Linked DNA regions of Homo sapiens. The protein of the gene in region 5 purifies or fractionates together with the protein of the main gene of each other region. This does not show direct contact. Each region holds a gene or a part of one and is shown on either strand. Other genes may lie near its edges. The genes, in order: QKI, PKP2, ACTR2, GNAI2, DUSP4, ITPRID2 and MYO1C.

Region 1 (4,085 bases), on a different chromosome or scaffold from region 5:
ACAATTTATCTTTGTAAATTACATTTTATTTATTTAGAGTTCTAAAATTGAGGGCTGAAATGAATGACATGTAATAGAAGACAAAACTGTACCAATACGCTGTTAACCAATCAGACTGTCCAGGTATTCTCATTTCATAAATATGTATACACACATATAAATACACAGAGTAGTGTTAGCTGATGTGAGTGATAACAGCGAATCACCATTGAGATGGTCATTTGGATCATGTAAACAAACCGTGTCATGTCTCTGATGGGAGCGGTGGGTAGTGTACTGTTAGGTGGACAGGTCTTTTAACATGCTACTATTTGTAAAAGTTTCCGTTGCCATAACAGTTCATGTAGTAGTCTGTGAAAATTCGAAGCTGTCTGTCAAGCTGCTAATATACAAGTTGTCATGGTACCATGTAACTTAAATTGATGAATTTCTATGCAATTTACTATTCTCTGAAGCCTATGAATGCAGCCTCATCTCATTTTCAGTTAAGGGTACTTTATGTATAATTATGTCATTGCTGCCTTTTATGTAGGAAATGTAAAAAAGTTTTAAAAGGCGAAAATAACATTACAGATTTCATTTTTATACAGGTTACAATATTAAACATGAAACTACCAAATTCCAAGAATAGTAAAATTCTAGAGTCAGTTGATTGATTGAAACTATTTGACAAAACAGTTGAAAGCTGAGCTTTCAGTCAAGAAGTTGGTGAAATTAATGTCCTTAAACTTTTCCTTTAGGCAAAATGTCAGGGAAAACTTAACATGAAAGTAGTTACTCCCATACGCACCAGTGCAGTAGCTCCAGGTGTAAGAGGTCACGAAGGCACCCTGCCCATAAAACCAGGATGTGCATACGTACACACAATCGGTGTCTGGTTATGGTTTTCTAAACACTACATAAGGATCTGAATTTTTTAGTGTGCCAAAAGCAAACGATAGGTTTAAATGAAATTGCTCACTACCAAATCAAGACTCTTCATATATATACGTGTGTGTATATATATATGTCATAACACTTTCACGTGTGACAGCCTAAGGTTTCTTTAGTTTTAGGATGGGGTGGGGTGGGAGTGGTTTTGCATGTTTGACCAGGATGTGATGCCTGTCTTTATTCCTTGATAAGAAGTAGCTGTTACAGCATTTCAAGCAAATTATTTTAGGTAGAATAGAACTTACTGCCAAATGATTATTTATTTAGCAAAAATTATTCTCCAACTTTTCGAATTCACAATTTTTCTAAGTGCATAGAGTAGTTTTTTACATTGTCACGAATTCCTTAATACCTTTATTTAAAATGGAAAAAATATGGACAATATTTTAGAAATATGTGCTACACATCTAATTTTATCTGTAGTTTAAGTGATCTAAATTGAGATGCCTTTGATATGAAGAGATTTACCAACATTATATGCACTCGTGCCTTCAATGTGGAATCAAACTGGTTAACCTCAGCACAGTCCTCTCGTTTCTGTGTTTCTGCTGCACTAATTGCCAGGGGGTGGGGGAGAAGGCGAATGAATTAATTCATAGTAGAAGGAGGCGATAGGTGCAGCAAAGGGCAGCCACAGTGTTGATTCCACATTATAATGTTGTTGCCTCTTCTTGGCAAAAGACACCACATTGTGGGAAGATCTCAGCTTCCAGGGTAAAAGTTAATTTATAACTTAAAAGTGCTATTAAGTTTTTATTACCAAATATATCTTTTATGGTTTATATTGTAGTGGTATGTATGAAACATTTAAAATTTTACTGTGGAAATTGTGTATATATATATATATAGTCGAAATAGGTGTTCACAGGTCACATGTGAACGGAGAACTGCATGACCGTACATGAAATGCAATAAACCAACTGGAAAAAGTGCATGTGCTTCATCCTCTCAAGCCAACTGCAGCTGGAAAGTGCTGCTTATCCTCCACCCCCAGAAAATGCATGTATCAATATGAGAATAAAGAACGCACACTTTCAATTTTATTGAGGCTTTCAACACTATTTAAAAGAAAATGTAAGAATTTGACATTCTGGAGTTATTATAACATTAGAAAATGAGCATAACATTCACTCTGATTTTAGCCATTAAGGGAGATTAGTAAACAGACTGCTACAGTGTTCCATAGTTGGACTGTGCATCCAAAACATTTTTTTATCTTTAATAAATGGTACAGTTTTTATGTAGTTTTCGAATGTAAGAAGAAAGGAATGCTGACCAAAACTTGATTTCATCAGCTTCATGAAAAGGACTAGTGTCATTAACCTGTTGAACAGAATTGGTTTATTAAAAAAATCATTTCCAGTAGTGTGAAACCTTTACGAGTCTTTAACATCTAAATGTTATGACTCCTTGTACCTTAAGTTTTCCAGTCTTTCTTATTTATATCATCTCCAAGTACCTCTGGCTCCTTTCCTCTTGCTCACCGGAACCTTAGTTTTCCTCAACAGAATGCTTTGTTAAAGTAGCCCACAGTTGCAGGATCCATAGCACCGTCGTGCAGACTAGCAGCCCAAAGGTGTGTTTGGTTTGGCTTATACGGTGTTTTGCTTTTTAAACTACTTGCCATAATTTAAAAGTGGCAACACTAGACTTAAAAAAAAAAAAGTCTGATTGCCCATATTAGATTTTTTTTTTAATTCTTCACAAAATCTGCTCTTCCTGAAAGATCAAAGTGTCTAGAAAGCCCAAACATGTATTCTTAACATAGTAGGCACCAGCTGAAACTGAGTAATTAAACGGTCCCCTGAAGCCAAGTATTCCCTGGTTAGTCGCCACCCCACCACTCCTTCCTGTCTCTAGTGTCACACTTGGGCTGTTGATTTTCTTACTCTTCTCTTGCTTTAATCCTTCCCCCCGGCTCTCTGGCTCCTGTGGATATCTGTGCTTGTTTCCTGGTCCAGGATGGTGATCTGACTTTCAAACCAGCTTCTCAAAAGGGGTGACATAAAATCAGTTTTGATGTTTTTCCTCCTGAAAAATCAGATGAATATTTTAGTCACTGTTACTCATGCACATTGTGTTCTTATGTTTACAGAAGTGCTTAAGTGAATGGAAGCACTAGACATTTGGATTTCCTTCCTAACGTAATTTTTAATGATTACCCCTTTTATACAGTAATTTGTGGTCTTTAGAAAGCAGTTAAACTAATTGACCATCTAATAGTTGTACTATACATATGTCTAAAATAATAGTCATGGTAAGTTTGGCATCATATCTTCCCCAAAAAATGTTTATTAAAATTAGATTATTCCAGTTTAATGCTATTTTGTGAACTGTATACCCTCTGAAAGCGCTTATTTTTACATGCTACACAACAGTTCCAATTTTAAGGAGTGTCTCCTAAAATTGGGATGAAAATCTACTGTAGTCTGTTTTAAAGTATGCTATACTATGTTCATTGGTTACTTAACTGGATATTAATATAAAGGTTATTACAAGAAAAATGATGAAGAGCAAAAGGAGAAGAAAATATTTGCAAGTGAATCCACAATTCTTGCAGAACTATTTGAGTTGATACTAAAGATTTTATGTTCACTCCTTTACCTTAGAACTGTCAAGCTTGGGAATGAGGAAAGTGCCTTGGCTGTGCTTGAAACCTGAATTTTAGTGCTTCCCTTATTACATTCATTGTTTTCAATGATTGATTTATAAAATTAAGACATACTGGTAGTACAAGTTGAAAGTTGGTTTGAATACATTTTAATTAAATGATAATATGTTAATATGCTTTTGTTCATTGCTTTCTCACTGAGGTAAAACAGCATTAAAAAGTTGTCCAGAATTTAAACTGACTCTAGATTTCTAGATTCCTAGGTGGCGGGAAAATGTAAAACTTTAAAGCTCATGAGCGGAACGCAATGCAAGTCCTGAAACTAAGAGTTAAATGTGAGTCTCAGGGAAAAAAGCTAGATTAGCAAATCAAACATACATATGCCTCATCCAGAACATCATTCAGGCATCAGTTCGGGGGCTACTAGCAGTAAAGTTGGTTTTAAATGAAATAAAGTGGAAAAGTTTGATATCACTTCCAGAAGTGGTCTGTCATCAGTAAGTATTGGTGTTGAGTCTAAAATGAATTAGAAACCTCCCGT
Region 2 (4,085 bases), on a different chromosome or scaffold from region 5:
AGTGGAAAACCAGGGGAAGCTGGTGCCCTGAAAACCAAGGGATGAGAGAATTTCATGGTGTCTCAAACACCACCCACAGGTTGAGTAATATAAGCAGTGCTTATATTACTCAATATAGTGTCTGCTTAGGATGTAGCAGATAAGGCCATCATTGCTACATTTGTCAGGAGACTGTTTAGGTGGAATGGAGGGGACTGAAATCATATTGCAGTGGGTTGACGAGAGACTGGGAAGTGACAGGGTGGTTCAAGAAGCAAGGGACACAGAGATGGAGGGAGAGAATGCCAGTTGTTGGAGGATGTCAGATAATAATTTTGTTACTGTTAAAATCATTTTGCTAAAACTGTGGCTATCACAAATCCTAGGCTATGGTAGGCATTCCATAAATTTTGAATTACCTGTTTAAAAGCCTTTATCAGCTTTTTCCTCCATAAACAATGACCTGATACACTTTCTCTTTTTTTTTTTGAGACAAGGTCTCACTGTGTTCCCCAGGCTGGAGTGCAGTGGCACAAATCTTGGCTCACTGCAACCTCCATCTCCTGGGCTCAAGTAATCCTCCCGCCTCAGCCTCTCGAGTAGTTAGGACCACACGTGCACACAACCACACCCAGCTAATATTTGTATTGCTCGTAGATATGGGGTTTCATCATGTTGCCCAGGCTGGTCTTGAACTCCTAAACTCAAGTGATTCGCTCGCCTGGGCATCCCAAAGTGCTGGGATTACAGGCCTGGGCCACTGCTCCCGGCTTATTTTTCCTCTTTGTAAGTATGCTCATATTGCCTAAGGTCTGCTTACTATAAGAAATGTTAGAAATCTCATGGTGAATTTTACATCATAAAAAATATTTCCTGTGTTAAGATTAGATTAGCCCTCATCATTTTGAGAAGTAGTTTATTAATGATGCTACCTGGTCAGTGAGCATGCTGTACAATTTCACTTGAAGGGATGTTTAGAGGTAACAACTATCATTAGACAACTTTAGCAATCAAATGACAATAACATATCTAATGTTTTAGCCTAATGATGTTAGATCATTATTGCAGGAGTTACTGATCTAATCAGCCATCCATTTCTCAATCTTTCTCTTAGTAACGTGCACAGTTTATAAAATTTGTGATCAGGCATTAAACTTGAATAAGGGTTAAGTTCCAAACACTAAATTAGTCAAGCTATAAAGTAAATAGGAATGGAAAGGAATGACTTAAAAATTCAGTTATTTTAATAATTTAATACTGCCAAAAGAATACCCCTTCAAATCACTGACACTAGAAATCTAAAAGGTACCAAGTACCAAAGGAAGAAAAAAGACATCTAGAAGTCAGCCATCTTTCCTTAGCTCTTTTTACAGTCATAGTTATCCAAATGGCATTCGTGCTAAGAATAAGCATTTTTTCCTTTTATTTCATGGGATGATGAAGAAAATACGCATGCAATTCTCCAATTCTTGGCCTACTTTGGAGTTTAGAGCAGATTTTCATATGGCTGAGGGGTAGGGTCCCTTCAGCCAGCATCTAATCTGGAACAGATGGACTAAATGTCACATTTCCATACAAAGCTGCCATGTGAGCAGGTAGCTTGGCCCCTGTCCCTGAGGTAAATAGGCTGATCTGTCAATTAGGCAGCTGCCTGAAAAGTCATTATTTTAATCACTTATCTCTGGAAGCCCTTCTCTCAAGCCCCAGAAGTGCCAGCTCATGCTGTCAGGGCTGTGGGAACAGAATGTGCTGGCAATGACTGAACTGCAGAGTCAGGAGGGGACTTACCCCAGCTGGGAGTCAGTGAAAGTGCTTCTCTCAGTGAGCAGATTCCCACTTCCCCCTGCGGCCGCCTGGCCGACAGTCAAGTGCGCTCTCCTCCCGCTGGAATCCACGGCGACACTGGGCCCAGCTTCCCTCAGCGTGCGGGTGCTGTGGAAGGAGCTCTGATGCCAGGAGGACCTGGAAGCCCTGTTCTGAGTGACGGGCTGCAGGGGCACCAGCGGCCTGACCTGCCCGACAGTGAGCCCTGCCGTCAGGTAGTTCTCCTTCTCCAAGAGGTTGCCCATGCTGCGGCTGGTCCCTGGCCTGGGGTACGTGAGCAGGGCCGGGTTGGCAGGGATGCTGTCAAAAACGGTGTCGCTAACAGAGCCATGCTGGTACTGTCTGTGGTATGTGTCAAAGTGGCGCTGCCTGCTTGTGGTGCCAGCACGGCTGACCCCCACGATCTCGGAACGAGCATATCTCGGTGGCACTAGGAGGGCGGCCCGCCTGCTTTCTTGGTGGTGCAGGGTGTGCCCAGCCTGGCTTCTCTGGCTGTACTGGTAATCGCTGTGCGTGTAGTGAGCCCTCTCCGGGCTGCTGTCAGGAGAAATCTCCAGTCTCCTCAGAGGATGCCTCAAGGACCTTTCTTCCACGGACTTCTGGGAGCTGTACTGTGCTGTTCCTCTTCCCCAGCGACCTTCATAAGTGGCAGTTGTGCCAGCCTGCACATGAGAGAAATAAAGTTTAAAGGGGGCATAAATCAAATTTCAACTTTGCTGAGGACTAATTACTCTGGGACTATTACCCAACATGTCCGTTTCTCTGAATCAGATGACGAGAAGTTTGCCCCTTTCTGGGTAAAGGCTTTTTGAAAATAAGACTTGGTTGACTTGAGTCATATTTATTTGCACTAGGATGTAAGAATGTTTCACATCCCTAGTTTTCCATGGTATCCTCATAAATATCAATTTTCTCAAAACTCATTTAGGAAATGATAATACTTGGGAAAAGTAAACACTCAAAAATAATCTTAGGAAGTTTGAAAATATTTTCATGGTAGTAATCTGATCACTAGGGTTACATTCTTTGATATCCTACCTTTAGCATGTCATAGGTTTTAGGAACAGGGGAACGGCCTCCAACAAAATCATTTTCAACCAAGTGTAGGTTGTAGACATACTCAGGAACACTGCTGGTTCGGTGAAGATTTCCTGCAATCAAGCAAATATTAAAATAACTCAGAATACAAGTAGGCTAATTAATATTTACAGACTGTATAACAATGATGTATTAAACTTTTAAATTTAAGTAATGAAGGCCAAGAACAAGTATTAAACGTACGTTAATGTTTTTAAATGCTAGTTTCACACCACCCTGGGATATGGCAAGTGATCAAAGGTTATCAAAACATTCTCTACAAAAGTTTTTCAGCTGGGTGTGGTGGCGCACGCCTCTTATCCCAGCACTCTGGGAGGCAGAGGCAGGTGGATCACCTGAGGTCAGGAGTTCAAGACCAGCCTGGCCAACATGGCGAAACCCATCTCTACTAAACATACAAAAATTAGCTGGGCATAGTGGCGGGCATCTGTAATCCCAGCTACTCAGGAGGCTGAGGCAGGAGAATCACTTGAACTCGGGAGACAGAGGTTGCAGTGAGCCAAGATCACACAATTGCACTCCAGCCTGGGCAACAAAAGTGAAACTCTGTCTCAAAAAGAAAGTTTTGGCTGGGCACGGTGGCTTACACCTGTAATCCCAGAACTTTGAGAGGCAGAGGTGGGTGGATCACCCGAGGTCAGGCATTCAAGAGCAGCCTGGCCAACATGGTGAAAGCCCCTCTCTACTAAAACTACAAAAAATTAGCTGTGCGTGGTGGCAGGCACCTGTAATCCCAACTATTCGGGAGGCTGTGGCAGGAGAATCGCTTGAACCCAGGAGGTGGAGGTTGCAGTGAAGCTGAGATTGCGCCATTGCACTACAGCCTGAGCAACAAGAGTGAAACTCTGTCTCAAAAAAAAAAAAAAAAAGTTTTCAAAATGAAAGTTGAATTTAAAAAAAGAAAAAGAAGGGAGAGGAAATTCACAAAAATCTAAAAATGTTTGGTTGTTATAGTGCTGAAAAATTTGGGACTCATTGTCTGGTTTAGCTGGTCGAGACTATAAAATTCAGTTTCCCGAGTCACAGAACTCTGTTCCCAAGGCAGGAATTCGGAAGCTTCTTGTAATAAGCAGGTGTAGGCAATAAATATAATGGTGACTCAGCACTACTAGATAAGACAGCTTGTATAAACAACAGGATAGGCCGGGCGTGGTGGCTCACACCTGTAATCCCAGCACTTTGGG
Region 3 (4,085 bases), on a different chromosome or scaffold from region 5:
GTTCCTGTTGAATTTATAAGACCATAAAAAAAAAAAAGAGCTCTCCCAACGTGGCCAATATTTTATTTCCAATAAAGAGGGAGGCAGTTGCTAATGGCAATATCAAGAGAATATATAAGTAGTCCCCTCCATTAAACCCACCTCAAAAGTTAGAAATGCACTCCCAAATGTTTACCTTCTCCTTTTTAATCTACTATATATTTGACAGGCATGATTTTATGCTACCTTTTTGAATCTCTGCGTATTTTTTTTAACTCAAGCCAATTCTGGGGACAAATTCCATGCATAAAAAATTAAAATAGCTATGCCAGGCACGGTGACTCATGCCTGTAATCCCAGCACTTCAGGAGGCTGAGGCGGGCGGACTACCTGAGGTCAGGAGTTTGAGACCAGCCTGACCAATATGGAGAAACCCCATCTCTACTAAAAATACAAAATTAGCCAGGTGTGGTGGCACATGCCTGTAATCCCAAATACTTGGGAGGCTGAGGCAGGAAAATCACTTGAACCCAGGAGGTGGAGGTTGTGGTAAGCCAAGATTGCACTATTGCACTCCGGCCTGGGCAACAAAAGCGAAAATCTGTCTCAAAAAAAATTTAAATAGCTTAAAAGAGAGAATATCCTATTTTTTAAAAAATAAGTCTTTAAGCCTTTTTTTTTTACCTTAAATACATATTTAGCAAATAAAAATGTATATAAAATCTTATTTCACAAATTTTAAAAACTGAAAATATTTCAAAGTGTGGTATATAAATAATGTAGTTTTCTGGGGCTTATAACTTATTGAGAAACCAAATTCTCTGACATAAAACATACATAATAAATGTTTGATGAAGTGTTTTTTCTAACAGTTAAGCTTAACCTACCTTGAGCGTACAAAGTCAGAACTGCCTGGATGGCTACATATACACCGGAAAACTGGTAAGTTTCAAACATTACCTGTAAATGCAGACAGAAAGAAAAAAACTGGTATTTAGAAAATTACATAATAAATAAATGTTTTCCTCATGGTCACAGAGTGAATTAATTGCCCAAAATAGAATCAAATGGACCTGAAATAGTCTTCCATTTTCATCAGCTCCTCTTATTTCTTATTGAAGTCCTGCTGCCACAGAGCTCCAAATCTGAAGACAGATTTCTAAGTCCCCAAGCATTTCATAAGCGTGACAAAGCAAAGATTTCTTAGTGTATTAGTTAATGACTAATTAGTGTGAAAGAAAGCTCTCTGTATTGAACAAGACTTTCTTAATTGATATCCCTTAAGGGAAATTCTTTTTTTTTTTTTTTTTTTTTGAGATGAAGTCTCACTCTGTTGCCCAAGCTGGAGTGCAGTGGCGCAATCTTGGCTCACTGCAACCTCCACCTCCAGGGTTCAACTGATTCTCCTGCCTCAGCCTCCTGAGTAGCTGGGACTACAGGCATGCACCACCATGCCTGGCTAATTTTTGTATTTTTAGTACAGACAGGGTTTCACTATGTTGGCCAGGCTAGTCTCGAACTCCTGACCTCATGATCCACCCACCTCGGCCTCCCAAAGTGCTGGGATTACAGGTGTCAGCCACCACATCCAGCCAGGGAAATATCTTTTTTTTTTCTTTTTTTGAGACGGAGTCTTGCTCTGTCGCCCAGGCTGGAGTGCAGTGGTGCCATCTCAGCTCACTGCAACCTCCACCTCCCTGGTTCACGCCATTCTCCTGCCTCAGCCTCCCGAGTAGCTGGGACTACAGGCGTACACCACCACACCCGGCTAATTTTTAGTATTTTTAGTAGAGACAGGGTTTCACCGTGTTAGCCAGGATGGTCTCCATCTCCTGACCTCATGATCCGCCTGCCTCGGCCTCCCAAAGTGCTGGGATTACAGGCGTGAGCCACCGCACCCGGCCGGGAAATATCTTTTAATTCGAAGACAAAATATAGAAATTGCTTTACAGAGCCTCGTACCCCCTCCCTCAATCTGGGCCAAGAGTGTAGCTCTGTCTACCCTGAGCAGCTTAAAAATTAAAAGAAAGAAAGAAAGAAAAAATAAAAAACCCAGTAAAATGCCACGGCAAAGACAAAAATCAATGGTTAATTCCTGATTGCTGGAAGATACAGAAATGGCTTAGCTGCTGAGCCCAGTCCCTACTTGAATCAAGACTGTAATTACAACCTCCAAATGAACTACCCTGGAAGGAGGAGTTCTTTCCTTTTTGCCCTCACTGGTCACACACATGTTCATTCTCTGTAGCCCAGGTCAGCTGGGAACATCCTGCATGATTTTTTTTTTGGTGATCTTGACTGAGCACCCCTTGACTGGTAGGGTTGCCTATCACTCTGAATATCTAAATATTTAGAAATTTTACAACTGACCACAATGAAAATTACACAGAATTTAAATTCTACAACTCTGAAACACATACTCATCAATTAAGCAATTAGATAGTCTGAATAGTATTTTATTCCATCATCCTTTATTCCACCTCCACAGGGATGAAAATGGAAGAATGATCATATATATGCACATACCAATGTGAAAGCATGTTAATGAGATTAAGGTAGGACACTATCAGTCATAGACATATTTGTAGTCATAAACAAATAAGAATATTAAAATATAAGCCATAAGAAATCATATGGATTCTTTAAAACCATGATCTTAGATTTTCAAAACACTTAATACAAAAACTGAGTTTTAATACAGGCTTTAAAAATACTAACAACATTTTCTTCTAAACCCTTTCAAAAATTTCCATCAACATTTAAACATATTCGTAAACAAAATATGTACATTAAACAGTAACTGGAAAGCTACAGAAGTTATTAAATTTCTACTTCATATATACAAAAATAAAAGAACCTTGAAAAATTACTTATTTAAACTATGAGGATCATAGCTCTCTTGCTCTCTCTTTCCTCTGTAACTGCTTATTTCATTATTTCATTAACTTTTTTTTTCTTTTTCTTTTTTCTTTTTGAGACAGAGTCTCGCTCTGTCGCTCAGGTTGGAGTGCAGTGGGGTGATCTCAGCTCACTGCAACCTCCACCTCCTGGGTTCAAGCAATTCTCCTGCCTCAGCCTCCTGCGTAGCTGGGATTACAGGCGTGCACCACTATGCCCAGCTAATTTTGTGTTTTTAGTAGAGACGGAGTTTTGCCATGTTGGCCAGGCTGGTCTCAAATTCCTAGTCTCAAGTGATCCACCCGCCTTGGCCTCCCAAAGTGCTGGGAGCCACCTAGCCCGGCCTCAATAACGTTTTCAATCTCCTTCTGCTGGCTCCTCCTATCTCTCTGGTCCTTGGCCTTTTCACCACTGTCTACCCTCTTCTTTGTTGAACCGTATCATTTATAGCCCTACCTTCAAAACAGACCTATAATCTGGTAATTTCTCACTATCTCTACTACTACTACTTCAATCCTAACCATCATTATCTTTTGCTTAAATGACTGAAAAAGTCTCCAACTCTTCTATCTTTGCCTCCTTGTGGGATACTCACAACACAAGAGAAATCTAAATCTGAGCATCTCCTTTTCCTGTAACAGCCCCATATTTCACCCACAGTAAAAGCCCAATTCCCTTTTTTTCTTTTTGAGACTGAGTCTCACCCTGTCGCCCAGGCTGGAATGCAGTGGTGTAATCTCGGCTCACTGCAGCATCTGCCTCCTGGGTTCAAGCGATTCTCCTGCCCCAGCCTCCCAAGTAGCTGGGATTACAGGCACGCACCACTATGCCCAGTTAATTTTTGTATTTTTAGTAGAGATGGCGTTTCACTATGTTGGTCAGGCTGGTCTCGAACTCTTGACCTCGTGATCCGCCCACCTCGGCCTCCCAGAAGTGCTGGGATTACAGGCCTGAACCACCACTTCCAGCCGCCCAATTCCTAATTAGAGCCTACAAGGCACCAATATTACTTACTCGACCTCATCTTCTGTTGCTCTCTCCTCAACCACACTGGCTTCCTTGCTTATTCTTTAATATACCAAGCTTGTTCCTAACTTAAGACCTTTACACTGGCTACTCCCTTTATCTGGAATACCATTCTCCTATATACCCTGGCTAACTCACTTACCCTGTCTGTTTAAACATCACCTTCTCACAACCTATGTACA
Region 4 (3,914 bases), on a different chromosome or scaffold from region 5:
CTCAAAGCAGTGGATCCACTTCTTCCGCTCAGACCGCTGACCACCCACATCAAACATCCTGCAGATATAGATCACCTTAGTTCCAGGAAGGGAGCCTGGGGGAGGCTTTCTACCCCATTTCTCAGGTTGGCTGACTGAGGACAGAGGCCTGCCCAGAGTAGGGCAGCTACCTTCTGGAATCATCCACACTTGCCCACTTCACCCCTGGTTCTGGGCCAGGAGCTTGGACAGCAGGCAGGCTGCAGCCACATCAGGCAGGAGCAGCAGAGGCTGTGAGCAGCTGGCAGAGGTGGCGTGGATCCTGACTGCTGGTTCACTAGGTGGTGAGGATGTGCTTGCCCAGAACACATGAGCCTTGTAAAACCTCAGTGGGGCTGGGGGATCCTGGACCAGCCCCTGCCTCTGCTACCCCAGAGGCTGGCAGGTCCTGCCCCTCCCACCTGTCCACATGCTCGCTCACTTGAAGTGTAGGTCCTTGAAGGTGAAGTGTGTCTCCACGATCCCCGTGGTCTTTACGCGGGTCCGTAGCACATCTTGCTGTGTGGGGATGTAGTCACTCTGTGCAATACGCTCCAGGTCGTTCAGGTAGCTGGGGATGGGGGGTGGGAGGGTCAGTGGGGGCCAGCATGGGGCTTCCTTAGCTGGACCCTGGGCCAGCTGCAAGAGGCCCCTTCCCTCCCATGCCATTTCTCAAGCACAGCCCTTGCTTTTTTTTTTTTTTTTTTTTTTTTTTTTTGAGACAGAGTGTTACTCTGTTGCCAGGCTGGAGTGCAGTGGCATGATCTTGGCTCACTGCAACCTCTGCCTGCCAGGTTCAAGCGATTCTCCTGCCTCAGCCTCCTGAGTAGCTGGGACTACAGGCGCCTGCCGCCCAGCTAATTTTTGTATTTTTAGTAGAGACGGGGTTTCACCATGTTGGCCAGGATGGTCTTGACCTCTCAACCTCAGGTGATCCGCCCACCTCGGCCTCCCAGAGTGCTGGGATTACAGGCGTGAGCCACTGCGCCTGGCCTAGGCACAGCCCTTGTTTCTTTAACCCCTGCCTGCATTACCTCATTGCTCAAATGAAGAAACCTGAACTCAGAGCCCCCGGCCTCCCACCTGTAGAATGGGAATGGGAGGAGGTGCAGCTCTGTGGACAGCTAGCCAGCCAAGCTCCAGCACCCAGGGTCTGAGCCAGACCTGCCTCGGACAGGATCCAGGATGTTGGAGCTATAGGCAAAGAGGGTGGGAGGAGGCAAATTAGTCCTTCGGTGAAGGATTCAGGATGCTAATGGGCGCAATTACGGCATTAGCCGCAGAGCAGCCGGGTGCGGTCCCTCGATGTGGTGCTGGACAGGTTGGGGCCTGCCAGGTCCAGTGGGCTCTTTGCCCAGCGCCCAATGAAATCTGGGTTCCTCAGGGGGAGGGCACAGACACCTGCTTGGCAGGGGTCCCAGGGGCTCCTCATTACCAGTTCCCTTAATTAGTATCAAGGCTACCCCTGCAGGGCCTGCCTCTGCTGCCTGCCTCAATATCCCTGCCATGCCCTGGAGGCTGGTCCCAGGCCTCCAGGCTGCTGCCCAGAGCTGACTTTTCATTCCTGGGGCAAGGCTGCTGGGGCTGGCCCTTGGCTCCCACCAGCACCCAGGCCAAACCAGGCCAGAGGGAAATGATCTCAGAGTAGCAGGGACAAAACAGAAAAACAGGAAGGGCCATGGGGAAGGATGACGCATGTGCTGTGACCCGCATACCATGCCCCGCCCCCTACTGCCAGAGTCCTCAATGTGGAGGTACCATGGTGCATTCCACACCAGCCTCTCCCTTTTCCCCAACAGGTGGGTTCGCCCCAGGGACCCCCTGACTCGCTGCACACTTGGAGGGTTGCTGCGAAGAGGGGCTGAAGGAGCCCTGCTTCCTGTGGTGTTCCAATCCGCAACCCATTCCCAGGGGGAGCTATCAAGGCTTAAACCTGACTGGGAGAACAGGGCCTGTATTCACTCCCAAAACTGTGCTGGGCACACAGTGGGTGCCTAATGTCTGGAGAATAGAGAAAGAGGATGATGGAGAAGCAGGAGGTGGCCTGGAGGTGGCTCTATTCCTGCTTCCTTTGAGTATCATGGGCACCAAGGTCCCTGCTGCTCTGACCCCAAGCTCGCTGGTGGCTGGGCCAGAGATCTCAGGGAGGGGCAGTGGTGAGGCCTGGGGGCCCCCACAGCATTTGGCTGTGACTCCACAGCTCCTGTAGGGGGTACATATTCACAAGAGCATTCAGGCCATGTAAGAAGGGTAGGAGGAGGCTGTTCATGTGGCTTGGACAGGGCTCAGGAATCACAGCCAGGCAAGACCCTCCTCCTCCTCCCACCCACCCTTGCTGAAATCCACCCTATGGGTAGGCTCAGGATTGGATGAACAATAGGAGCAAAAGGGTGTTCCAGTCAGAGGGGACTGGCTTAAGCAGAGATAGGGGAAGGCTAGAGTACAGGGACAGCAGCCTATCTGGTGACACCATCCAAAGCCTGTGGATGTCCCCTGCAGCCATCCTCAATGGCTATTAGCCTGTCTATCCTGTTCCCCGTGGGGTCCTCAGCACCCTGCACCAGTCCAAGTACATGACAGATACCACAGGGAAGGAGTTCAGAACTGTGGAAAGGGTGCAGGCTTGTCATGCCTCTGGGATTCCTGGGACCCCTTGTAATTCCTCAGCCTAGGGCCAGCGAGGGTCACAGCTGAGGTCCAGGGGCTCTGACCTACACACACACCTGTCACCTCCCAGATAACTTCCTCCCCTGTGGCCCCCTCCAGCCAGCCTCCACAGCCTATGTTCAAGCACAGCCAGCTCCCCACCACCCCGAGATGCTGCACATGCTATGCCCCTGCCTGGAATCCCCTCATCCACTCCTCCCCTGGCTGACTCTCCTTCAGAGCTCAGCAATCCTGTCTCTGGGCCAACTCCACCTCTACCTTTTCACTAACACCCTAAATTGTCACTGCATGGGGACTTTGCTCCACTCATCACTGTGTCCTTGAAGCCTGGCACAGAACAGGTGGCAGCAAATGTTCTGAGTCTTGCTCTGTCACCCAAGCTAGAGTGCAGTGGCGCAATCTCCGCTCACTGCAAGCTCCACCTCCCAGGTTCACGCCATTCTCCTGCCTCAGCCTCCTGAGTAGCTGGGACTACAGGCGCCCTCCACCACGCCCGGCTAATTTTTTGTATTTTTAGTAGAGACGGGGTTTCACCGTGTTAGCCAGGATGGTCTCGATCTCCTGATCTCACGACCCGCCTGTCTCAGCCTCCCAAAGTGCTGGGATTACAGGCGTGAGCCACCACGCCCGGCCGCAAATGTTCTTTAGAAGACTGTCAAGACAGATCAGACTCAACTGGCCTGGAAGAGATGTACTGTATAAGCCACCTGCCTGTCATTCCTCCTGGCCTTTCAGTAACGTGACACCCACCCACCCCCCAAACCAAAAAACAGGAAGGCCTTGGTTAACAGTCATCGGTTTCATAAGCAAAGACCAGCAGTGTCCTTCTGGGGGTTCTCAGGCCCTCCGGTCCAGCCTTTAGTCCTCCCCCAGCCCCTGCCCTGCCCTGCCCAGCCCCTCAGAGCACTCACTAGGCAGCTGAGTCGTTGAGCTGGTATTCCCTTGAGCGGCCAAAGCAGGCCTGCACACCATGGTCAGCCCAGAGCCTCCGGATGACGCCGGACAGGTCATCAGGGAGCACGCCTTGCTCCTCGGCGGTGCAGGACAGTGCAAATAGCTGCCTGGCGTCGTCCTGGGCACAGTGGCGGGTGGTCAGGCAGTTGAAGGAATGTACCCCCACTCTGCCAGAGGCAGGGAGACCTCTGGAATGGGGCCCAGGCTAGGGTATTCTTGGATTCCCTAGGATGAGACTTGCCCTAAAACCTTTTTGTTGTTGTTGTTTACTTTTT
Region 5 (4,085 bases):
GGCGCTGTGGACCTAGAGAATGGCCATGGAGTGGTTTCCAGAGATGCAGAGGACACACTCGTCAGGACTGCAGCAAAGCTGGAAGGATAAGCTTTATGGACAAGACTTGGGTTAGAGAGGTAGACATACAAAGGAAGACGTGCAGGGGGATGTGCAGAAGTGACTGTGGAGTAGCTCCTCAGGACAATGACAAAATAGAGAAGCAAAGGTCACGCTGGGCTTCCAAGGACACTAAGTACCTGTAGAGACACCTGCCACCCCTGATTCCAGCCCTTCCTCAGGGGAGGTTCTCCAATGTGAGAAAGAAGGGAAAAAATGACCCTGGTACAAACTCTTCTGGATCTCAGCAATGGAACAGATGTCCATTGCACGTCCTCATGAATAGCTGTTCCGTCACCAAGAGACCAGAACAAGAGGAAAACGGGCTTAAATCTAAATAAACCCCTCATGCTATGTACAGGTTTGGGGCAAGGGAGTATTTCCTGACCTGAGAGTGGGTAAGCCCTGGAATGGTTATCTGTGGGATCATCTTCCAGAGAAGGGAGATCTTTTAAATAAAAAAAGAAGATGATGATAAATGGCCAGCTGAGCTGGGGTAGGGTGAGTGCTCCTATCTAGGAGGGGTGGAGGCAGGTGGGATACAGGGAGAGGCCACAGGGAGGCCATCCAAAAAGACAACCTTTCAAGCCCTATCTCTGGCTTTCTTGTGATCTCTGGGACTTCCTTTTGCGGCCAACTTCCAATCCACAGTGCTATCAATGTATGGCCCTGCTTTTATTTTTATTTTACAGTGTCTGTAGGGCCAGAAATGGATTCAATTGATTCAGTAGGGCCTGTGCGTTGGAGAACCACCATTCCAACAAACCCATTCAACTGACTCCAATGACAATTTGGCCAACAGTCCTGGATGTCGCTACCTTTGCGGTCTTCATGACAGTGACATAGGACCTCTGTGCCCTAGGGCCATTGATAGAAATTTTCCAATGTGCAGACATGTGACGGTGAGTCAGTCACTTGCGCCAAATCCCAACCCTAAAGACTGCTTCCTACTGAGAGGAAGGAAACGGTTCTCTACCACATCATGAGGCTTATAGAAACAGGGTGTACATTTTTTCCTCTCTGACCGGAGGCTTCTCTATTCCCCTCCTCTCCCTCCCTCAGGATATAAATGGATCTCTCTCTGGTCACAGGCCCTTGTTCCTGCTGAGTCACAGTGACCAGCCTCCCTGGATGGAAAACCTGCTGGTGGGGCTGGTACCGTCAGCCTCGGTCATGCTGGTGGCCTCGGCAGCCACTTCATCACAGAAGCACCCCCTCCCTCCCATCATAAACCCCTTTCCTTATTCGGCTGCCACCACTGCTGCCCAAAATGCAGTAATTAGAGGATGAGGGAAGAGGAAGGAAATATCTGTCTGCAGCTGAAGTCCTTCAGGGGCTTCTGTGATGGGAAACTTCAGTCCATGCTCCCTTTCGGAGAAAGTGGAAGGGAAACTCATTCATTAACAGTGGTTGATCACTTGTATCCCAAGCCATCACTTGTTACTCTATATACTTCTCTAGGATTTGAAAAAATTCTAAGTACATGATCCTTTTGTCTATTACATAATTTGAGCTATTAAAACACATTTTAAAACAACATGTTAGACACAGGTGGTGTCCTGCAAAAACTCACCACCAAGACAGACAAGCTATCGCCTGCACTCAAAAGTGAATGGTTGGGTGGCCCAGGAGTGCCAGGGCAGGCCCCACGGTCACAGAGCAGAGTGGCCCTCAGGGCTGGAGAAGCAGGAAGAGCCCAGAGCAGCTGAGAGGATGTTGTCTCCATTGCTGAGGGTATGGAACAGGGCACTGGAGTGAAGTTCCGAAAGGGCACAGGCTCTGCCATGAGGTTGCACCCCACCCTGAGCATGTATCACCTGTGCAGCCCGGGCCTCCTGAACCTCTCGGAGCCTCCTCCTCGTCTGTAAGTGATGAAAGTCCCCTGCACAAAGGCCTATGAGGACTGGTTCTGACAGCCAGGCTCTGTGCCTGGCATCAGGGAGACAGATCATGAAGTTTTCCCTTCTCGGTGCCTACATGGAGGGGTGCCCTCGGATGCCCTCAGCAGAGATCCTCAAAGGCCAAAGAGGAACCGGGGACAGGGTAATGCTGGTAAGGTACTGGGCATTTGACAGCCTGCTCTCCTGGAAACCTGTCTCTTGGTTTCCGGAGACCTCCAGACCTCCATCTTCTCTCCCAGGCATGGCCATGGCTGCCACTCAGCAGAACCCTTGTCAGGGACCTGGCACCGGCTGCTGGCCATGGAGTGGTGTGGGGGGCAAGGAGGGCCCAAGTGACCCATTTGGTGGGGAACAGGCTAGATGTGGCCTGAGAGGGCCATTCGTCATCTCCCCCAGGCTCATCGCAACTGTCTGGAAAAGGCACCATTAGAAGGCAGCAGAAAAATGATTACAGAAAAGTCAGTTCCCTCTGAGGGAGTTTTAAAGAACAAGCAAAAATGAACAAGGTGAGCTGGGCGCGGTGGCTCACGCCTGTAATCCCAGCACTTTGGGAGGCCGAGGCGGGTGGATCACGAGGTCAGGAGATCGAGACCATCCTGGCTAACACGGTGAAACCCCGTCTCTACTAAAAATACAAAAAAATTAGCCGGGCGTGGTGGCGGGTGTCTGTAGTCCCAGCTACTCGGGAGGCTGAGGCAGGAGAATGGCGTGAACCTGGGAGGCGGAGGTTGCAGTGAGCCGAGATCGCGCCACTGCATTCCAGCCTGGGCGTCAGAGCGAGACTCCATCTCAAAAAAAAAAAAAAAAAAAGGAACAAGGTGAAGAAGCAGATTCGCTCAAGGGGCAGAAACACTGGAAGGTTCTCGTCCCTGACAGTGGTGGCCAGCTTTTGGGGGTCTGTGGCTGGTTTCACAAGATGCCACACTAAAGGGGGTTCCTTTTGGTGGGCCCTGGGCTGCACTCAGGCCAGCACTCATGGGTGAGAACGATATGTTCTGGGCTGGTGGAGCCCGGAGGACACAGTGAAGGTGATGCGGGAGGATGCATGCAAGTTAGCATTTATCCATCGGTGGAAGAAGCTGCTCAAGTCCACCCCCCACAGGGCCATGCCCCAGTAAGTCATCTCTGGGTGTCAGTCTATGCCACCTCTGCCTTCCACCCCTTCCTGGTGGGCCCTTCTCCAGGGGGCACTGCCTGCAGGTTTCATCAAGTGAAGACAGACTTTTCATGCAAAAACAGAACTGATCCAAATAGGGCACTGCTGATATTTCACCAAACTCTGCTTCTACCCATTGGTTTCCTAATCCAGGCTGTCATTAAAGAGTCATGACCCACATTTTTAAAATGGAATACAATAGAATAGGAATTAGGAGGATGCACTGCCCTTAAAGAGGATATCATTTTATGGAACTTTTCTTCAGATGTGCATGTATCCCTCTCCTGGGTCACAATATAAATTAAAATGTGTTTCTTACTGTGGGCAGGGTTAAAAAAGATTATTCTAAGGTGACTTCCACTCAGTCCCTCCTACCCATCCCCAAATCCATGCAAGTACCATAGCCACAGCCCTTTCAAGAGCTAGATTTAGATCACCTAGTTTTATCCCAAAAAATCATGAAAGGGAAAGCTTATTCTCATTGTCTACAAAGGGGCTGGGCTCCTTCCCGTGCCCCTAGCAGGTGTGCAAGGAGAAGTGGAGACAGATCCAGGTGTAAGTCCAACTCAACTTGTGGAACTTGGACAAGTATGTTCCCTCCTCAACTCTGGTTTTTCCCACTCTCAAAATGTAAGAATTTCTGATTATAATGATCTTTAAGTTCCAATATCCTCTGCTTCTAAATATCCAGGATCTACTTATTTGCGTGTCAGTTTTGCCAGCTCTGAAGCAGCAGGTGCCTAAAATCTGCATTTCTATCTCCTGAATAATTTCATTATCAAATGTGCCATTCTGAATGAATGAATTCTGTTTTTCCTATGCCCTTTGAATGTATGAAATGAATGTATTGAACGTGTCTGTGTCCTACTGAATGTAATTCCATAAGAGGTTTCTTACTAATTTCAACCTGTTTTTCCCATGTCCTTATT
Region 6 (4,085 bases), on a different chromosome or scaffold from region 5:
TTCCTAATCACAAATCTTTCAACAACTACTATATGCTAACAGAAGGCATGGAAATCTCAGGTTCTAGAAATTAGTACAATATCAACTACAATAGGTGTATCCACAAGGACATTAGTCTTTCTTCCCCTATCCTCTCACAAATATCTCAAACACGGGAAAGCAGGTTACCACTACCCTTAGGATATTGAAGGCATACAAGTTTACTTAGTAAAACACTATCTATGACTAATCTTATCTACACTGGTTCACAAAACAGATACAAGGTACACAGCAGTAGAATCAAAACCTAATTTTAAAAAATATAAGTTGAGAAGACTTTGAATGAAAAGCTTTTTGAGGTGTGCTAAGACAAAATGAACTTTTACCTCTCCTCCTCAGTCATATGATGATAAACCATGGTTTGCTGACGCAGCATTGCCAATTCTAAATCCATCATTTGTGTTCTAAACAAATTCAGGCTCCGCCTCATTACCTGGAGCTCCTGAAAAGTATTCTAGAATGCAATATAACAAAATTACACTTCTAAATTCTACAAATTATTTTGGAACACAAAGATGTAAGAAAGAACTTACTTCATAAAGAGGTAGAACAGATGATTTCTGAGTACTATATGGAGCAGCAGCAGGATCAGGTCCTCTCATCATAGGGTACTTCAAAAAAGTAAAAGTAGGATTAAAACCAATGTTAAAGTGAATACTTCCAAATCACTTAAGGGGTTAAAAGGCAGAATTTGGGGCCTATATATTTTTCTCTTTAAGACAAAAGGATCCAAAAAACCTTCATATTGTAAGCAGGAAAAAAGAAATCAGTTCCCAATGACACCTAGTACTGCTAGCTGTTCCAGGTATAAGTCAATCTACGTGGGAGGAGGAGGCGAAGGAACATAGTTCACATCTATTTCTTTCAGGACTTCCCTCTTGCGAAACTAAAAAAAAACAAAATCAAAACGCAAAAATGTAGAAGCCATTGCAAATATCATCATGAGATTATAGTGATTATTAACTTTGCTGGAGAGCAAGCAATCATTGTCGTCTTTCTCAGACATCTTAGCATTTCCTATATGCCACTATTTTAGGCAGTGAGATAAAAACATAAAAGGTATTCCCAGCCTTCAGGTGTTCTCACAGTGTAAAGAAAAATAAAGGAAATTTTAAAAAAATTCTAATACTGTGGAAGGAGTGCTATGATGAACACAGAAAAATTCAGATTACGTGAACTTTCCCAAAAGTGGTAACACTACTTGAACTGAGCCTTAACAGTAAATAGGGCTTGATTATGCAAAGAAAGGCAAAGACTGGGTGATCTCGGTTAAAAAAAAGTGGCTTATAGTCCCAGTACTTTGGGAGGCCAAGGCAGGAGGATCACTTGAGCCCAGGAGTTCAAGACTGCAGGGAGCCATGATTACACCACTGTCTCCAGCACTCCACGTGGGCGAGAAACAGAAACTTCATCTTTTTATTTTAAAAAAACAAAACACAAAATCAGCCATGTGCAGATACCTAAGAACACACAACTGTTTAGAGACCTGTGCACAATCCTACAGCTAAGGAATGAGGCTGGAGAGATAGTCAGAGACCACATCATAGAAAGCACCTGTCCACTAGTGTAGGGTGGGGTAGGCATGGGGAGATGTATTAGCTGAGTTATTGCTGGGATATCCAGGAGAAAGAGACCACAGCTGGAGCAGAAGAACTAGGTGGCCTAGAAAGATGCACCACGGTACTGGTGGACAGGGTCCTGGAAATCCCCAGCTTGACATAATCACAGCTGCAAGTTCCATCACAGACAGAACTATATTTTGTAAGGAGGAATAAGAAACACCCACATTCTGTTTAAACAGAAAACTGTTAGGGGACAATTGTCATGAGGATAAAACTTACAGTTAAGAGGAGGTATATCTTATTATAACTTGAGAAGTTACACCTTTGATTTTTACTTTCCAAGTGGCTCCCTGTCTACTATGTCATGATAAGAGGTCTATTACATTCATTCTAGGCCTCCTGACTCTTTGTTGAATGCTCTCATGACTATATTACATTGTCATTTTCTTCAATCCCTCAATTGTCTAAACATGATTCATTCAGAGAGAATGTTCAAGAAAATGTAAAAGGCAAAACTGAAGACAACGTACTTATTTTCAAAATTTTTTTGGGAAAATTATTTCCAGTCTACTAACAAATCTGAGAATGACTTTAAAAGTGACAAGACATACAGAGCATTTTAAATCAAATTCACACTTTACCTGATTTGTTATTTTCTGGTCTGGAGTAGTTCCAGTCTTTGAGTCCAGTGGAAGTAGACTAACTCTGTGCACAGCATCGAGGGTCAGTAGGTGAAGGGGAAAGCTTAGTCAGAGAGCTACGAGCAGAACCAGGAGAACGTGGTGCCACAGAAGCCAACAGGGAGAAAACTTGGAAAAGGAAAAGGTAGTCAACATGTTCAAATAGCAGAGAGAAAGAGAGAAAGAACTTTAAGAGGGAAGATTTTTTAATAATAGAAATGACAAAAGATTCTAGACTAAAACAAAGACAGTGGATGATAGACTAAAAATGGGAGGATACTTAACGAGAAAAATCTCTCCTCTTGGAAAGGAGACAGACTTGTGAGCAGAGAAATCGACTTTGATCAGGGTTAGTTACAGCTTCTCCCTTGAAACAGGAGGGAAGATAGAAAACGAAGGCAGATGCAGATTAAGTTTAGACATGTCAGAAAATAAAGCTGAGGTAGTTCATACTTGATGTGCCTTAGCTTCTCTGTGAATTAAAAAGTGCTCAGAGCAGTAAAAGAAAAAAGCTAATGATAACATACTTTTTCTCATACCTGTGAAAGATTCTGCAGTGAGTTTCTAATATCATGTAATACTCTTCGCAACTGCATTTCTATGGCTGAAGGAGGATTCACAGAGCACACTCGGTAAGGGTAGGTGGCATGTCTATGTGAGTAAGGACACCCGAAAGGGGAAGCGAAGGCACTACAAGTAGCCCCTGATATGTTGGGAACACTGTGAGTGCTCAGAGTTCTTGTGTGCTCACACAGGGGCCTTTCTTGCCACTCAGAGTGGATGGAATGAAGGGAACAGGTAGACTGAGACATTGGTGGTGGAGCAAGCCGTGAACAGGTAGGAGTCCTTCCATGATGGCATTCCTCCACCCGCGGCGCCTCACTCTGGGGGGCTTCTTCTTTCTTCACAGATGATGGAGAGATGAAAATGGTCGATTTAACTAAAGACTGACCATCATGTTCCATCACCCGCTTTTCCAATTCCTGCTCCTCTTCAGGTGTGTACTTATAGGTGAAGGAAGGTGGGCTGCATCTGGTCTCTTTTCCTGGAGATAATCGAACATTGACAGAGGACACAACCCTTACTGGGCTCAATAAGGTGGTTGGTAAAGACTGAGACCTTCTTAGAGGATAGCCAGCTTTTGCAAATAAGTACCTTTGTTTTAACAAATCTTTTGATTTTAGCAGGCTACGCCCCATCCTTTGATTAGACAGACTGCAAACCTTCATTTGAGCTCTTTGCAAAGCTGTATTAACTCTGTCCATGGAAGAGGGAGGCCCAGTTGTATTTTCAGAGCTCATATCACTGCATTTAGCTTCAATAGAAGCCAATGATTTCAGAATATGGTGTGTGGTATACTGAGTAAATTCACTTTCACTGCTTTTACCCACATCACTTTCAGCACTTGCTTCCCTCAGTAGCTCTACTGTCTCTGCTGGAAACAAATCCTCTTCCACTTCAGTAATTTCAATGATATGATCCCCTGGACTACAGGTGGACTGTTTAGTTCCTGTATTCTCAATGGTGTTGCACTGAGGGAAATCCTGGCTACCTGATTTTCTTTTGTCTGCAACTGCTGCTGCCTTCTCTAGTCCCTTCTGAAGAGGGACAAGAGACTCCTCCTCTGATTCATTAAAATAAGGCTGGTCTTGTGCTGTTGGTGTGGCAAGGTCTTCACCAAGTGACGTAACTGTTGTCTCACTGTCACAACTATCAGCACTACTCCCCATAGCCTGCAAGGACTCCTGAACCTGTGAAAAGAAAATAGGTGGAAAGATGAAGAATATATGTAAGAAGAGTCACT
Region 7 (3,898 bases), on a different chromosome or scaffold from region 5:
GGGGCAGCTGTTCCAAGGCAGCCCCTACTCCCATCACTCCCCTTCGCCTGGTTCCCTCAGCAATGCTGGAGGGATGGAAGGAAGGCTGCTCAGAGAAGCAGAGTGAGAGCCGAGCGCCGTGGCTCACGCCTGTAACCCCAGCACTTGGGGAGGCTGAGGTGGGCAGGTCACCTGAGGTCAGGAGTTCGAGACCATCTTGGCCAACATGGTGAAACCCCATCTACTAAGAATACAAAAATTAGCCGGGCATGGTGGCGGGCGCCTGTAATCCCAGCTACTCGGGAGGCTGAGGCAGGAGAATCGCTTGAACCCGGGAGGTGGAGGTTGCAGTGAGCCGAGATCACGGCAACAGAGCTAGACTCTGTCTCAAAAAAAAGAAGCAGCACAGTGAGCTGGCCAGGGTCACATAGGAAGAGAGTAACAGTCCGGCTAGAACCAGACTCCCACCTCGGGAAGGAGGCCTCCTGTCCCTCTACCACCTTCCCTCTGGGGTGGCCACCTGTCCTCCCTGAGGTCCCACTACCAGCACCCCTCCCCATACTGCAGGCTTGCTGGAGCTGGGAGTGCAGAGTGGTGGCGGCTTCCTGGTCTGCCTGAGCCTGGGAGCAGGTGGGATGCACAGGCTCTGTGGCATTCATCTCCTTGTCTCACGCTGCGTCCACAGCTCCTGAGCCCGCTGAACCTGGAGCAGGCCGCGTACGCACGAGACGCCCTCGCCAAGGCTGTGTACAGCCGCACTTTTACCTGGCTCGTCGGGAAGATCAACAGGTCGCTGGCCTCCAAGGTGAGGGCTCGGTCCACACTGCTCCCAAGGCAGAAGGGAGGGCCGTCGGCGAGGCGGGGGGTGCTGCAGGGTGGGGCTGGCACGCGCAGGGGGCCCACGCCTTCGGTTGAATGACTGCCCTAGGACGTGGAGAGCCCCAGCTGGCGGAGCACCACGGTTCTCGGGCTCCTGGATATTTATGGCTTTGAAGTGTTTCAGCATAACAGGTCGGTGCCATCTTTCCCCCGTCTCTCCTCCCGGTCTCCTGTCCTGCTCCCTCTCTTCTGTCCTCCAGCCTCTCATTCCTGCCCTGTGACTCCCCAGCCAGCCGGGGACTGTCTCTGTGTTTCTCACCTCCTGTGCTCAGGGGCGTCGTCCAGCTTTTCCCCTCTCCTGGTCCTGTGTCCCCACTGAGCCACTGTGGGCTCTTCTCCTTCCTTACAGCTTTGAGCAGTTCTGCATCAATTACTGCAACGAGAAGCTGCAGCAGCTCTTCATCGAGCTCACGCTCAAGTCGGAGCAGGAGGAGTACGAGGCAGAGGGCATCGCGGTGTGTGCTAGCCTGGGGGCACTCTCCGTGGGCCACGGGGAGCCTGGGTATCGGGGCCCCTGGGAGAGGGTGCCAGGACCCCACGGTGATCCCTTCCTTCCCTTCTGCCCCTCAGTGGGAGCCCGTCCAGTATTTCAACAACAAAATCATCTGTGATCTGGTGGAGGAGAAGTTTAAGGGCATCATCTCGATTTTGGTGAGTCCTCTGCGCCTCCAAGGCCTGGTGCTGGAGGCTGGGTGGGAGGATGTCCCCCTTCTCCGTTCTCTCCAGGCTGGTCCACGGAGGGCCAGAGTTTGGGGCTGAGTAGAGACAGGGCAGAGCTGTGAATGGAGGATGGAGGGAGGTGCCGCCCCAGTTGGAAGCTCTCTGTGGAGACTCCCTGTGATCTGCCCCTCCCCTGTGTCTGTGCCTCCCAGCACGGTGACCCCAATCCTCTGTGCGCTCTGACCTGTCCCCCATACGTCCTTCCCCCTGTGCCACACCCCCCAGGATGAGGAGTGTCTGCGCCCCGGGGAGGCCACAGACCTGACCTTCCTGGAGAAGCTGGAGGATACTGTCAAGCACCATCCACACTTCCTGACGTGAGTGGGGCTGCGGGGCTGCTGGGGGCAAGGGCTCACTTGCAGCAGAGCCTGCGGAGTGCAGGAGTCCCTCCGCCATCACAAAACACCAGCCACAAGGAGGTGACCAGGGACGGTGCTGAGTTAAGGACCCCTCACATGTGTCCAGAAACTAAGAAGCTTAGCCAGGCATGCTGACACGCCTGGAGTCCCATCTATGCAGAAGGCTGGGGCAAGAGCATCACTTGAGCCCTGGAGTTTTGAGGTTGCAGTGAGCTAGGATCAACCCACTGCACTCCAGCCTGGGTGACAAGAGCGAGACTCCGTCTCAAAAAAAAAAAAAAAGGGAAAAAAATAAATAATGAATTTTTTAAAAAAGAGAAAGAAGGCCAGGTGCAGTGGCTCACGCCTGTAATCCTAGCACTTTGGGAGGCTGAGGCGGGTGGATCACCTTAGGTTAGGAGTTCAAAACGAGCCTGGGCAACATGGTGAAACCCAGTCTCTACTAAAAATGCAAAAATTCGCTGGGTGTGGTGGCAGGTGCCTATAATCCCAGCTACTCGGGAGGCTGAGGCGGGAGAATCGCTCGAACCCGGGAGGTGCAGGTTGCAGTGAGCCGAGATCGCACCACTGCCCTCCAGCCTGAGCGACAGAGTGAGACTTCAACCCCAAAAAAAAAAACAAAAAACAAGACACTAGTAGCCTGGCTTCCTCCTTCTTCTTGTTTGAGAATGAAACTTGCTAAGATTTTTCATCTTCCTTGTTTGGAAATTGATTTTTATTGAAGGAATCCTCTGAAGTGGGGAGAGGTAGAAACAGGAACAAGCGCCTCTGTCCAGCGCGGTCTGATGCATGCTGTGCATGTCGTCGCTTCACCTGCAGCTGCTCCTTGAGGGGTTCTTGGTGTTTTCTCACTGAGACTCCAAGAGGCGAAGTCATTTCCCCAAAATTAGCTCTCATCTGGGTTGCCGAGCTGGGGTCAGTGCCAGGGCTGTTGAATGCCAAAGCCATGAGTATTTTTTGCATAATAATATATTGAAAATTTGTTTCTGGATGGGCGTGGTGGCTCACGCCTGTCATCCCGACACTGTGGGAGGCCTAGGTGGGCAGAGATCACCTGAGGTCAGGAATTCAAGACCAGCCTGGCCAACATGGTGAAACCCTATCTCTATTAAAACTACAAAAATTAGTCAGGCGTGGTAGTGGGCACCTATAATTCCAGCTACTTGGGAGCTAGGAGAATTGCTTGAACCTGGGGGGCGGAGCTTGCAGTGAGCTGAGATGGTGCCACTGCACTCCAGCCTGGATGACAGAGTGAGACTCCGTCTCAAAAAAAAAAAAAAGACTTGTTTCTAGGAGTCTCTCTGAATCTATTCGGGTTTAGGGGCTGCCTGATTCATTAAATAATAAATACTAAAAACTTGTTCCTGATTATAAAAATAATATTGCTTATTACAGCAAAGTTGGAATGTGCGCAAAAGCCACCTGTGATCCCGTCGCCCAAAGGCCATGGCTGTTAACTGTGTGAGGCATTTCCCTCCTGCCTTTTTCTATGCATTTTTTTTCGTAGTCGAGAACTTGTGTATAAGGCTCAGGGTAAATATCCTGCACATTTTCCCGTATCATCAAACAACATTTTCCTCAGAACACTTCCTGGAGCGGTTCTGACCCACAGATACTCCCCTCTCTCACCCAGCCCTTCGGGGCCCCTGGCCAGCCTCCCAGGTTTCTGCTGGAATCACAAGGCTGCCACAAACATCTCCGTGCCTTCAATCTTTGTCCGTGTCTCTGGTTAGCTGCTTGAAATAGTTCTTAAAAGCAAATGGGTGAAAGGGTATAAACACGCCTAAGACTTAAGTGCTCTCTTGGGGCAGCAGATTCCATTCTGAAAAGTAGTGCGCAGCTCACCACCCCTTCTGAGCAGAGCCCGCAGCGGCCGAAGCAACGAGAGTTTCCCTCCCTGCAGCGTACCCTGGCCGTCAGGAGGCCCAGGTCCCGGTCCTGGCACTGTGTGGCCCTGGCCA

What was found.
Region 1: the proteins of DUSP4 (region 5) and QKI purify together in Homo sapiens (affinity purification with mass spectrometry, with the first as the bait; one large-scale study listed by BioGRID). This does not show direct contact.
Region 2: the proteins of DUSP4 (region 5) and PKP2 purify together in Homo sapiens (affinity purification with mass spectrometry; one large-scale study listed by BioGRID and IntAct). This does not show direct contact.
Region 3: the proteins of DUSP4 (region 5) and ACTR2 purify together in Homo sapiens (affinity purification with mass spectrometry; one large-scale study listed by BioGRID and IntAct). This does not show direct contact.
Region 4: the proteins of DUSP4 (region 5) and GNAI2 purify together in Homo sapiens (affinity purification with mass spectrometry; one large-scale study listed by BioGRID and IntAct). This does not show direct contact.
Region 6: the proteins of DUSP4 (region 5) and ITPRID2 purify together in Homo sapiens (affinity purification with mass spectrometry; one large-scale study listed by BioGRID and IntAct). This does not show direct contact.
Region 7: the proteins of DUSP4 (region 5) and MYO1C purify together in Homo sapiens (affinity purification with mass spectrometry; one large-scale study listed by BioGRID and IntAct). This does not show direct contact.

Annotation. Positions count from the first base shown.
Region 1 is NC_000006.12:163,574,812-163,578,896, forward strand, and holds the end of QKI (KH domain-containing RNA-binding protein QKI), read left to right. Parts: 3' UTR 1-3,781; downstream 3,782-4,085. UniProt on the Homo sapiens protein: RNA reader protein, which recognizes and binds specific RNAs, thereby regulating RNA metabolic processes, such as pre-mRNA splicing, circular RNA (circRNA) formation, mRNA export, mRNA stability and/or translation.
Region 2 is NC_000012.12:32,876,079-32,880,163, forward strand, and holds part of PKP2 (plakophilin-2), read right to left. Parts: intron 2,955-4,085; coding exon 2,842-2,954; intron 2,466-2,841; coding exon 1,768-2,465; intron 1-1,767. UniProt on the Homo sapiens protein: A component of desmosome cell-cell junctions which are required for positive regulation of cellular adhesion.
Region 3 is NC_000002.12:65,247,881-65,251,965, reverse strand, and holds part of ACTR2 (actin-related protein 2), read right to left. Parts: intron 940-4,085; coding exon 867-939; intron 1-866. UniProt on the Homo sapiens protein: ATP-binding component of the Arp2/3 complex, a multiprotein complex that mediates actin polymerization upon stimulation by nucleation-promoting factor (NPF).
Region 4 is NC_000003.12:50,252,867-50,256,780, reverse strand, and holds part of GNAI2 (guanine nucleotide-binding protein G(i) subunit alpha-2), read right to left. Parts: intron 3,758-3,914; coding exon 3,597-3,757; intron 590-3,596; coding exon 461-589; intron 59-460; coding exon 1-58. UniProt on the Homo sapiens protein: Guanine nucleotide-binding proteins (G proteins) are involved as modulators or transducers in various transmembrane signaling systems.
Region 5 is NC_000008.11:29,340,377-29,344,461, forward strand, and holds part of DUSP4 (dual specificity protein phosphatase 4), read right to left. Parts: intron 1-4,085. UniProt on the Homo sapiens protein: Regulates mitogenic signal transduction by dephosphorylating both Thr and Tyr residues on MAP kinases ERK1 and ERK2.
Region 6 is NC_000002.12:181,915,163-181,919,247, reverse strand, and holds part of ITPRID2 (protein ITPRID2), read right to left. Parts: intron 4,033-4,085; coding exon 2,821-4,032; exon of another isoform or gene 2,649-2,820; coding exon of another isoform or gene 2,562-2,648; exon of another isoform or gene 2,411-2,561; coding exon of another isoform or gene 2,351-2,410; exon of another isoform or gene 2,243-2,350; intron 926-2,242; exon of another isoform or gene 778-925; intron 651-777; coding exon 573-650; intron 494-572; coding exon 366-493; intron 1-365.
Region 7 is NC_000017.11:1,475,502-1,479,399, reverse strand, and holds part of MYO1C (unconventional myosin-Ic), read left to right. Parts: intron 1-664; coding exon 665-784; intron 785-907; coding exon 908-990; intron 991-1,207; coding exon 1,208-1,313; intron 1,314-1,428; coding exon 1,429-1,509; intron 1,510-1,803; coding exon 1,804-1,895; intron 1,896-3,898.